2 linked regions of the Homo sapiens genome follow. The gene in region 2 interacts genetically with the main gene of each other region. Each region holds a gene or a part of one and is shown on either strand. Other genes may lie near its edges.

Region 1 (3,487 bases), on a different chromosome or scaffold from region 2:
TTCTCCTCACTATTCTCTGAAGCTGGCTTGTCCTTGCCTGAAAAGGCTATCTCCTCATCATTTTCAACTACTTCCTCTTCTTCTTCCTCTTCTAGTTTAGGACCTAGAAGTTCTTCTTCTTCTTCCCCACCCTCCATGGGAGCTGGACTAGACACCTTGCTGAACCTCCCAGGATCCAGTAGCGTTCTCTGTCCTGGGTCACCCACCTCATACTCCTTTAAAATGCCAAAGATCTCAATCAGGCATCGTCGGAAATATTCTACAAGGAGCTCTAGCAACCCTGGGAGCTAAAAAGAGAAAGAACAGGAAATAAATTAAGGGAGAAAAGTGGCCTAAGAACAGAATTATTGACTTGAGAGACCTCCCCAAGTCTTCTGTATCAGTTGGGAGAGGCAGAGTTGCTCCTTTCCCAAAGGTTCTCCACAGAGCAAATTGTTCATCTTAATCTCTTCTATGCCCAACACAAAGTTCTTTCTTCTGCCCAACCTACCTTCACGTAAGCCTATCTCCAGGAACACTAGCCAACAGCTTTGCACCTCACCCACCAGGGCCAATCATCTCTTAGCCTTCTCTTTTCCCAATTAATCTTCTGCTTTTCTTCACCAGGCCAGTTTTCAACCTGGTGGTCATTGCCATTATCTCTTTTAGGACACTCTCTCCATCTCACTGCCAAGTGGAACCCAAGCTTAGGCATGGTGACTTAAGCTAAGAGAAGAGAATGCCATGTGGGCAGATGTTCATGGCTCTCTTCTCCAAGCTCCCCACAAGTCCAGGGGGCTGGAACTCCATGGATCTTGCAGCATAAGGAGTGGGACGAGGCTTCAGCTCTCCAAACACTGGTCCAAGCTGGTGCTACAGAGACCCAAATTCCACCTTGGATAATATATAGGCCATTTATTTACCTCTAGAAGAAAACACTCCTCTCCAGTCACAATCTTTGGCTGAACAGTAGAGCAGATGGAAAAAAAAATAAGGGCTTTCGAATTAGATCTAGGGGCTGGAAGCAGTGGCTCACACCTGTAATCCCAACACTTTTTTTTTTTTTTGAGATGAAGTCTCACTCTGTCATCCAGGCTGGAGTACAGTGGTGTGATCTCAGTTGGCTGCAGCCTCCGCCTCCTGGGTTCAAGCGATTTTTCTCCTGCCTTAGCCTCCCAAGTAGCTGGGATTACAGGCGCCTGCCACCACATCGGGCTAGTGTGTGAGAGTGTGTGTGTGTGTATTTTTTTTTTTTTTTTTTTGAGACAGAGTCCCGCTCTGTTGCCCAGGCTGGAGTGCAGTGGCACGATCTCAGCTCACTGCAACCTCTGCCTCCTGGGTTCAAAGTGATTCTTCTGCCTCTGCCTCCCAAGTAGCTGGGATTAGAGGTGTGTGCCACCAGGCCCGGCTAATTTTTATATTTTTGGTGGAGATGGAGTTTCACCATATTGGCCAGGATGGTCTTGAACTCCTAACCTCAAGTGATCCACCCACCTTGGCCTCCCAAAGTGCTAGGATTACTGGCGTGAGCCACTGCGCCCAGCCTAATTTTTATAGTTTTAGTAGAGATGGAGTTTCACCATGTTGGCCAGCTGGCCTCAAACTCCTGACCTCAAATGATCCTCCTGCCTCGGCCTCCTGAAGTGCTGGGATTACAGGCGTGAGCCACTGCACCCAGCCAGTAATCCCAACACTTTGGAAGGTTGAAGTGGGAGAATCACTTGAGCCTAGGAGTTTGAGACCAGCCTGGGCAACACAGTGAGACCCTGCCTCTATAAAAAAATAAAGAAGTTATCCGGGGCCTGGAACGGTGGCTCACACCTGTAATCCTAGTACTTTGAGAGGCTGAGGTAGGTCAATCACTTGAGCCCAGGAGTTTGAAATCAGCCTGGGCAACATGGTGAAGCCTCATCTCTCAAAAAAAAAAAAAAAAAAAATTAGCTGAGCATGAGCATGTTTGCACGCACCTGTAGTCCCAGCCACTTGGGAAGCTGAGGTGGGAGGATCACCTGAGCCTCGGAAGTTGAGACTGCAGTGAGCTGTGATTGCACCACTGCACTCTAGCTTGAGTAATGGAGACCCTGTCTCAAAATAAATAAATAGCTGGACATGGTGGCATTTGCCTGTAGTCCCAGCTACTCAGGAGACTGAGGCAAGAGGATCGCTTGAGCCCAGGAGTTTGAGGCTGCAGTGAGCCATGAGGGCACTACTACACTCCAGCCTAGGTGCCAGAGTCTCTTAAAAAAAAAATTCTGGCTTTTCCAGGAAGTAGCTGTATAAAATGATAAAAATTCCTAAACTTTACAGGGTTGTTCTGAGGTGTAAATGGGAGATGTCAAATACCTGGCATATGAAAATTGCTCTATCAAAATTTTTCCTTTCTCATGGTAGGCAATATTATGCAATGGAAATAAAATCAGGCTTAGGAATCAGATAGATTCTACTGACAGCTATGTGAACCTCAACAAGGATAAGACTGAGCCTATTTACTCATCCCTAAATGGCCATACCTCCTACCTCTGAGGGCTGTTGCTAGGATGACATGAAACAAAATATTAAGGACCTGGCACAAAATAAGAGCACGATAAATGGTAACTATTAATAAGTCAGCTCCTTGATATACAGGTTGGTAGGTACTAAAGATGATCAAAAGAAAAAGAGTAGGATGATGCAGCACAAACTCTTTCCAGCACCTCCACTAGTGTGCACATCCTATGGAGGGTGGGTCTGAAGAATCAGCTTTGTAAGAATATTGTAGGGCCGGGCGCGGTTGCTCACGCCTGTAATCCCAGCACTTTGGGAGGCTGAGGCGGCTGGATCACGAGGTCAGGAGATCGAGACCATCCTGGCTAACACGGTGAAACCCCGTCTCTACTAAAAATACAAAAAATTAGCCGAGCGTGGTGGCGGGCGCCTGTAGTCCCAGCTACTTGGGAGGCTGAGGCAGGAGAATGGCATGTACCCAGGAGGCGGAAGTTGCAGTGAGCTGTGATAGCGCCACTGCACTCCAGCCTGGGCGACAGAGAGACTCAGTCAAAAAAAAAAAAAAAAGAATATTGTTAAACAATCAAATCCCCCATCCACTCTACATCTAAGGAAAACTGGGATCAACAAAGGCCCCTACTGTTCAGAGAAGAAAGGGAAAAATGGAAAAAACATACTCTGCTCACTGATAAAAATTTGACCACAGATTCAGGCTGGGCCTGGTGGCTCATGCCTGTAATCCTAGCACTTTGGGAGGATCACTTGAACTCAGGAGTTCATGAACCTCGGCAACATAGTGAGACCTCGTCTCTATTAAAAAAACAAAAAAACACAGATTCTTCTAGAAAATGTGGTGTCCCCACTGGCATCGATTGAATCTGAATTCTTACTAATACCACAAAGTGTCTCCCAAATTCCTTTTGAAGTCAATCCTGTGTTAAGGTTATCATGTAAACAAATTATTATTGCTGTCAAAATCCTGGGCCCGTGCCCAGAGGCAAAGGAAGCAAAGTACTGGCATGGA
Region 2 (5,055 bases):
AAAGGGCCGGATGAGGTCCCAGCAAGTTCGGGGGAGCCCCCCCGCCTCCCTCCCACTCACCATTTCTTGGTGCACTCCAACACTAGCTCGTGGTAACAGGCCACGAACTGGAACTTGGCCGCCCGCTTGCCCACGCGCTGCAGGCGCTTCCACACCGAGGTCATGGCCCCCGCCACCCCGCCGCCCACTTCTCAGGCCCGGGGCTCCCGCTGGCCCGCCACCGCTGGCCCGGCCCGGGTCCCCATGGCCTGTCCGCGCCGCCCGCCCCGTCCGTGCGGAGGTGTCCCAGGCTCCGACCCGGGACCGCGCTCTCCGCTGCCGCCGCTGGGGCCCGCAGGGTGGTCTGGCTGAGTCTGCGGGGTCGCCTGGGGCGCGTCGGGTGGCGAGCGCGGAGCTGGGAGCGCGCCGTTTCCTGGAGCCGCACCCCCGTCGGAAGGCGGGCGGGGCTCCGGCGCGGGGCGGGGGCCGGGGCAGGAGCGCGGGGGCGGGGCGACCCGGCTTCCGGGGCCTCGCGCCGCGACCCGGGAGCGGGAGCGGGGGCGGGGGAGGGGGGCGTGGAAGGGGTGTCGCCCGACCGCAGTGCCCGCTCGGTGCGCGCAGAGGCTGCGTGGAGAGAGGGCAACCAGCAACTTGGTGCCACCCTAGAGAGCGCTGCCCGGGCCGCCTTCCTTCCTGCCCGCAGCCCTGGGAGGTACGTACTACTGGCCCCCTTTCAACGGCTGGGAAAACTGAGACCCAGAAAGGGGAAGGGACTTGCTCAGAGTCATACTGTGAATGTGGACGAGGACCAGCTCTCAACTCCAAGGTGCAGCCACCCACGTCTTAACCAGAGCAGGAAGGCGTCAGTAACCTCGGTGGCCCAACCTCAGAACCTGACTCTGCTGTCAAGGGGGAAGATAATCCCAAACCCCGACAAGTAGCTGGAGAATCATAACTGACCTCCAACCAAGTGTGACTTTGGGCAAAGCGCTAACACTCTGAGCCTCAGTTTCAACGTCTATTAAATGGGGATAATTGTAGTTCCGCCTTTTAGGGAATCCCTGAGAGGATGAACCTCAGAAGGCATTTAGCAGAAAGCCTGGCTGATTTTGCCATGCCTCCTTATTAAATGGGATGCGCTATAATGGATGGGGAAAACGTGTCATTTTTGTGTATGTTTACTCTCCCTCCCCAGGAAAGCCTGCCTGGAGCGTTAGCAGCTGTGAACCCCTAGATTAGAGCCCTTATCGCCTACCCACCCGCCCTGCATGGTAATGAGCCTCTGCAGGTGTCAGCTGCCCTGGGGCAATAGGTCAGTTTGTTCCTTCCCGCTGCTCTGCAAGGTGTGTAAATGGACAGGAGCCCGGTGCGTGACTGCTACTTGGTTTAACGGGATGTCTGAGTGCCAGGACTGCCATCTGGGCTGCATCTCCAGGAGGCAAATGGCTGCAGCAGGGCGCGGGGATGTGCTGTTCGTCCGCACACCTCGGTGTGCGGCTTCACCTCTTTTCAGGAGGTTGTGAGGTGTCGTGTGCGCGTGTAGGGGGCTGAGTACCCACTGTCTCCGAACGTGCTGGCTTCTTCCGGTGGGCTTGACAACTGGGTTTGGTTCTCAGTCCCAGCGGTGTGGGTCCCCGGTTTCCTAAGAAACCTTCCACAGATAACTGTAAAGACCGCTAGTGCTGTGGGGAGAGCCGGCGGTCTTCACAGACTGAGCGGGGAATACGGGTCCCTGGAACCCCAATCAAACTTCACCGCCGCGGAGTCTCATGCTTGGCCTCCGGGAAGGCCCGAGGTGCCGCGACTTCACTCCCCTCGGCCTCTGCCACCCCTCCCTCCCACCCGCGGGGCGTGAGGTCCCAGGCCGTTCCCGGAGGCGCCTCCCCCGCCCCCGCCGGGGCCCCTTGCTCCGGCGACTCCGGCCACCCATTTCCTGCGCCGCCTCAACCCCGCCCCGCGCGGGGTGGAAAGTTTCCCTCCTCAAGGTGGGCGGCTCCTTCTCCTTCCTTCCCGGCAGGCAGGGAAAGCCCGAAGCGAACTGGGAGGAGGGAGCGGGGGACTCGGAGGTCGCGGGCGAGAGAGGGGAAGTGACTCGACCGCAGTCACCCGGCGGCTGAGCCAGGCTCGGCCAGCAGGCAGCGCCCCCAGCCCCGCCCCGGCGGGACGGCAGGGCCTTCACTCGGCGCGGGGCGGGGGGGGAGGGGGTCTCGGGCGCCACCTGCTGGCAGAGCGCGGGGCCGCACCTGCCACAAACACCGCGGTCTTCCCGCCCCAGAGCCAGCCAGGCAGAGCACAACGACGCTGAGTGTATTTATTTATCTACGCGCCCTGGAGACCGGCCCCTAAATTTAAATATCCAGCACGGGGCCTTGGCCCTCCTGGCCGTGGGTGGTTATTGGGACGGGTCCTGGAGCCCTTCCAGGGCAGAGGAACCCAGAGCCCGGAGGTGGGATGCCCCTGAGCCAGCAGCTGCCGATAGCAACAAAAGGTGAGGAGGAGATGGGAGCCAGGCACTCATCCCAATCCCAGAGACGCCAAGCGGAAGGGAAGATGCTTCGGGCCCCACCGCAAGGCTGAGGGTTGGCCAAGCTGGGGGTGCACACATGTGGAAGAACTGGAGGCCCAGTGCCATGAGCAGAGGCTGTACCCTAGATGCCCGCCCCAGTGCCAGCCAACCCAAGACAGGAGAAAGAGTTTGGCAGTTTCGCCTCTGAGGAATACATGCCTGGCCCTCCTGTGAGGTGAGGCGGTAGGGGGGAAGGCGCAGGCTCCGAAGTCTGAGGGCTTGCCGGAGGGGGAGTTTCTGAGCCTTTTGCATGGGTGCATGCCCCCTGCCCCCCAGCCCTTCAGAGGCTGATGTGGAAGGCATCCTGCAGCCACTGGTCACGGGCATTGTGCGTCTGGGGCACAGTAAGGGGTGGCGGGTCAGGAGGCAGGCTGGCATCGGGAGGCTCCTCGTCGTCAGACAGGCCCGCATCCGGTGGGTAGGAGCTGTCCGAATGGAGGGAGGATGACAGGTCCTGGCAGAAGCTCAGGTCTTGGCACAGGTGTTTGTAGTCCTGGATTGACTCGTACAGGCCCCACAGCTGGCACAACAAGGACATGTCCAACTGCCGCAGCCCCACCTGCAGACAACTGAGGGTGGGCTGGAGTTGGGGTCCAGGCCACCCCAGCCCAGCCCCGCCCCCTGGAATAGTGGGCCCCAGCCCATCTTCCCCGCACCTTCCTAAACGAAGTTTTTGTGGACATCAGGCACCACCTGCAAGCTATGCAACTTTAGTCATGACCCTCACCCAAAAAATGGGGTTATCCATTTAGCCGGATGAAATGAAGTAACGTCAGCAAAACATTTGAAAATATATGGTAACTACTGCCATAATTGGTAACTATCACTAATTATTGTTACCATAACCCTTGCAACCCAACTGGTGCCTGCAAGTCCTCTGAGACCCAGGCCGCCTGTCCCAGTCCCCTGCGTTCCTCCGCGTCAGCCCCCCGCCCAGCTGGCCCGGCGCCCACCCACTCACCATCTCCTTGCGCAGCGCGGCCAGCGCTGAGTCGAGGTTGACAGGACGACGCGGGCCGGCTGCGGGTCCCGCGTTGGCGGCGCCGGCGGCGTGGCGGGGCCCGTCCGGGGCGCGGGCGGCGCGGCTCAGCTCGTCGTGGATGCGGCTGCGCTGGCTGTAGACGCGCTCCAGCTCCCGCCACGAGCCCCCGCTCGCATTAAGGAGGCCGCTGAGGCCGCGCGGCAGCGGTGGGAGCCCGGCCAAAGCGCAGCCCGCCCCGCCCGGCGCCTCTGCCGAGGGCAGCCCGTTCATGGCCGGGGCCGGCGCGGACGGCGATGCCACCTCCTTCCCTCCAACGCTCCGCCCGGGCCGCCGCCCGCAGGCCCCGCACCCCGCGGCCCCGCCGGAGCCCAGCCGCCGCCCGCAGGCCTCGCTTTGTTCCTTCCCCAGCTCCTCAGACTCCGCCTCTGCCCCACCCCCTCTGGATGGGCCGGGCCTCTCTTAAAAAGGCAACGGTTGTGGGACCACGTCGCGCAAAGCTGAGAAAAGGCAACGGGACATCCACTCACTCAAGGGGAGATGGAAAAATGCGGCGGAGGGGGGAAAAGGCTGAAGGGGGCAGGCGTGGTTTCTTCACGGTTCTTTTTGCTACCCCGTCTCCCCGCCGCGCCCCGCCCCGCCCCCACACCCAAGGAAAATGATCTAACAGTGGAGTCAGGAGACTGGCAAGTCCACACTTGGTGCCTAACGTGCCACCTGACGCTGGGGTCACCACAAACTCCTGTCGGTGTCTGAGTACCTGGGGTGGGCATGAGATGGGATAGGCTGATAGGGTCAGGATGCTCAGGGGAAGGAGGGGAATCTATCAAGGGGATCGGAACACAAAACCTCACTTCCAGGTGGGGAATGGACACCAGATGGCGGAAGAGGCTGCAGAGGTGCTGCCAGAGACAAGGCTAGGGTCCACCCCTCTGGCTGCTACCTTTGAAAAGGCTATGGCTTCTTCCTTAGAAAAGGGGCATCACATAGTCCTCTACCTACTCCCTCATCCTGACTGGGGAAACTGAGAAGAAACAAGCTCAACTCATCTCAGGGCGTCAAGGAGAGCAGAGTGGAGAGGTGAAGAGGCCAAAAGCTGGAAAAAGGTGAGTGGAGCTGGGGCTGGCATGCACACTTGGAACCAGGAAAAAAACAAACCACACAGAGGAACAGCTGTTTTTCTAGAGGGTTTTTCTCAGGGGCTTCTCTTAGTGCTGTAGCTGCTGCAGGCTGCGCAGGGCCTCCGCACATGCGCGGATAAGGCCACACAGCTGGATGCTAGTCTCCAGGGAGGTGCTAGAGCCCAGTTCAGCAGAGGCCCAGGTCAGCTTCTGCAAGAGGGCTGTCTGTGTGCAGGCCATGACATCTGTATTTGGAGGCACAGCAGGAGCAGGTGGCCCCTGGGCTGCCTTGAGTCCTGCTGCAGCTCCCTCACAGTGCTCCGGACGAGGTACTGGGGGCTGGGGCGCAGGTCGAGAGCCCAGGGGGAGCTCTGAGGCTGAGGCCAGCTGGTGCTCCCGAGCTTGGGAGA

The links. Genes that interact genetically often act in the same process or in processes that back each other up.
Region 1: changes in FAM89B (region 2) and ARID1A together harm fitness more than expected from each alone (negative genetic interaction), as found in Homo sapiens cells (one large-scale study listed by BioGRID).

What each region holds. Positions count from the first base shown.
Region 1 is NC_000001.11:26,775,823-26,779,309, reverse strand, and holds part of ARID1A (AT-rich interactive domain-containing protein 1A), read right to left. Parts: intron 288-3,487; coding exon 1-287. UniProt on the Homo sapiens protein: Involved in transcriptional activation and repression of select genes by chromatin remodeling (alteration of DNA-nucleosome topology).
Region 2 is NC_000011.10:65,571,412-65,576,466, reverse strand, and holds FAM89B (leucine repeat adapter protein 25), read right to left. Parts: upstream 3,930-5,055; 5' UTR 3,798-3,929; coding exon 3,507-3,797; intron 3,115-3,506; coding exon of another isoform or gene 3,105-3,114; coding exon 2,826-3,104; 3' UTR 2,277-2,825; downstream 1-2,276. Other genes in the region: EHBP1L1 (EH domain-binding protein 1-like protein 1), read right to left, coding at 61-164; protein ZNRD2, read right to left, coding at 4,733-5,055. UniProt on the Homo sapiens protein: Negatively regulates TGF-beta-induced signaling; in cooperation with SKI prevents the translocation of SMAD2 from the nucleus to the cytoplasm in response to TGF-beta.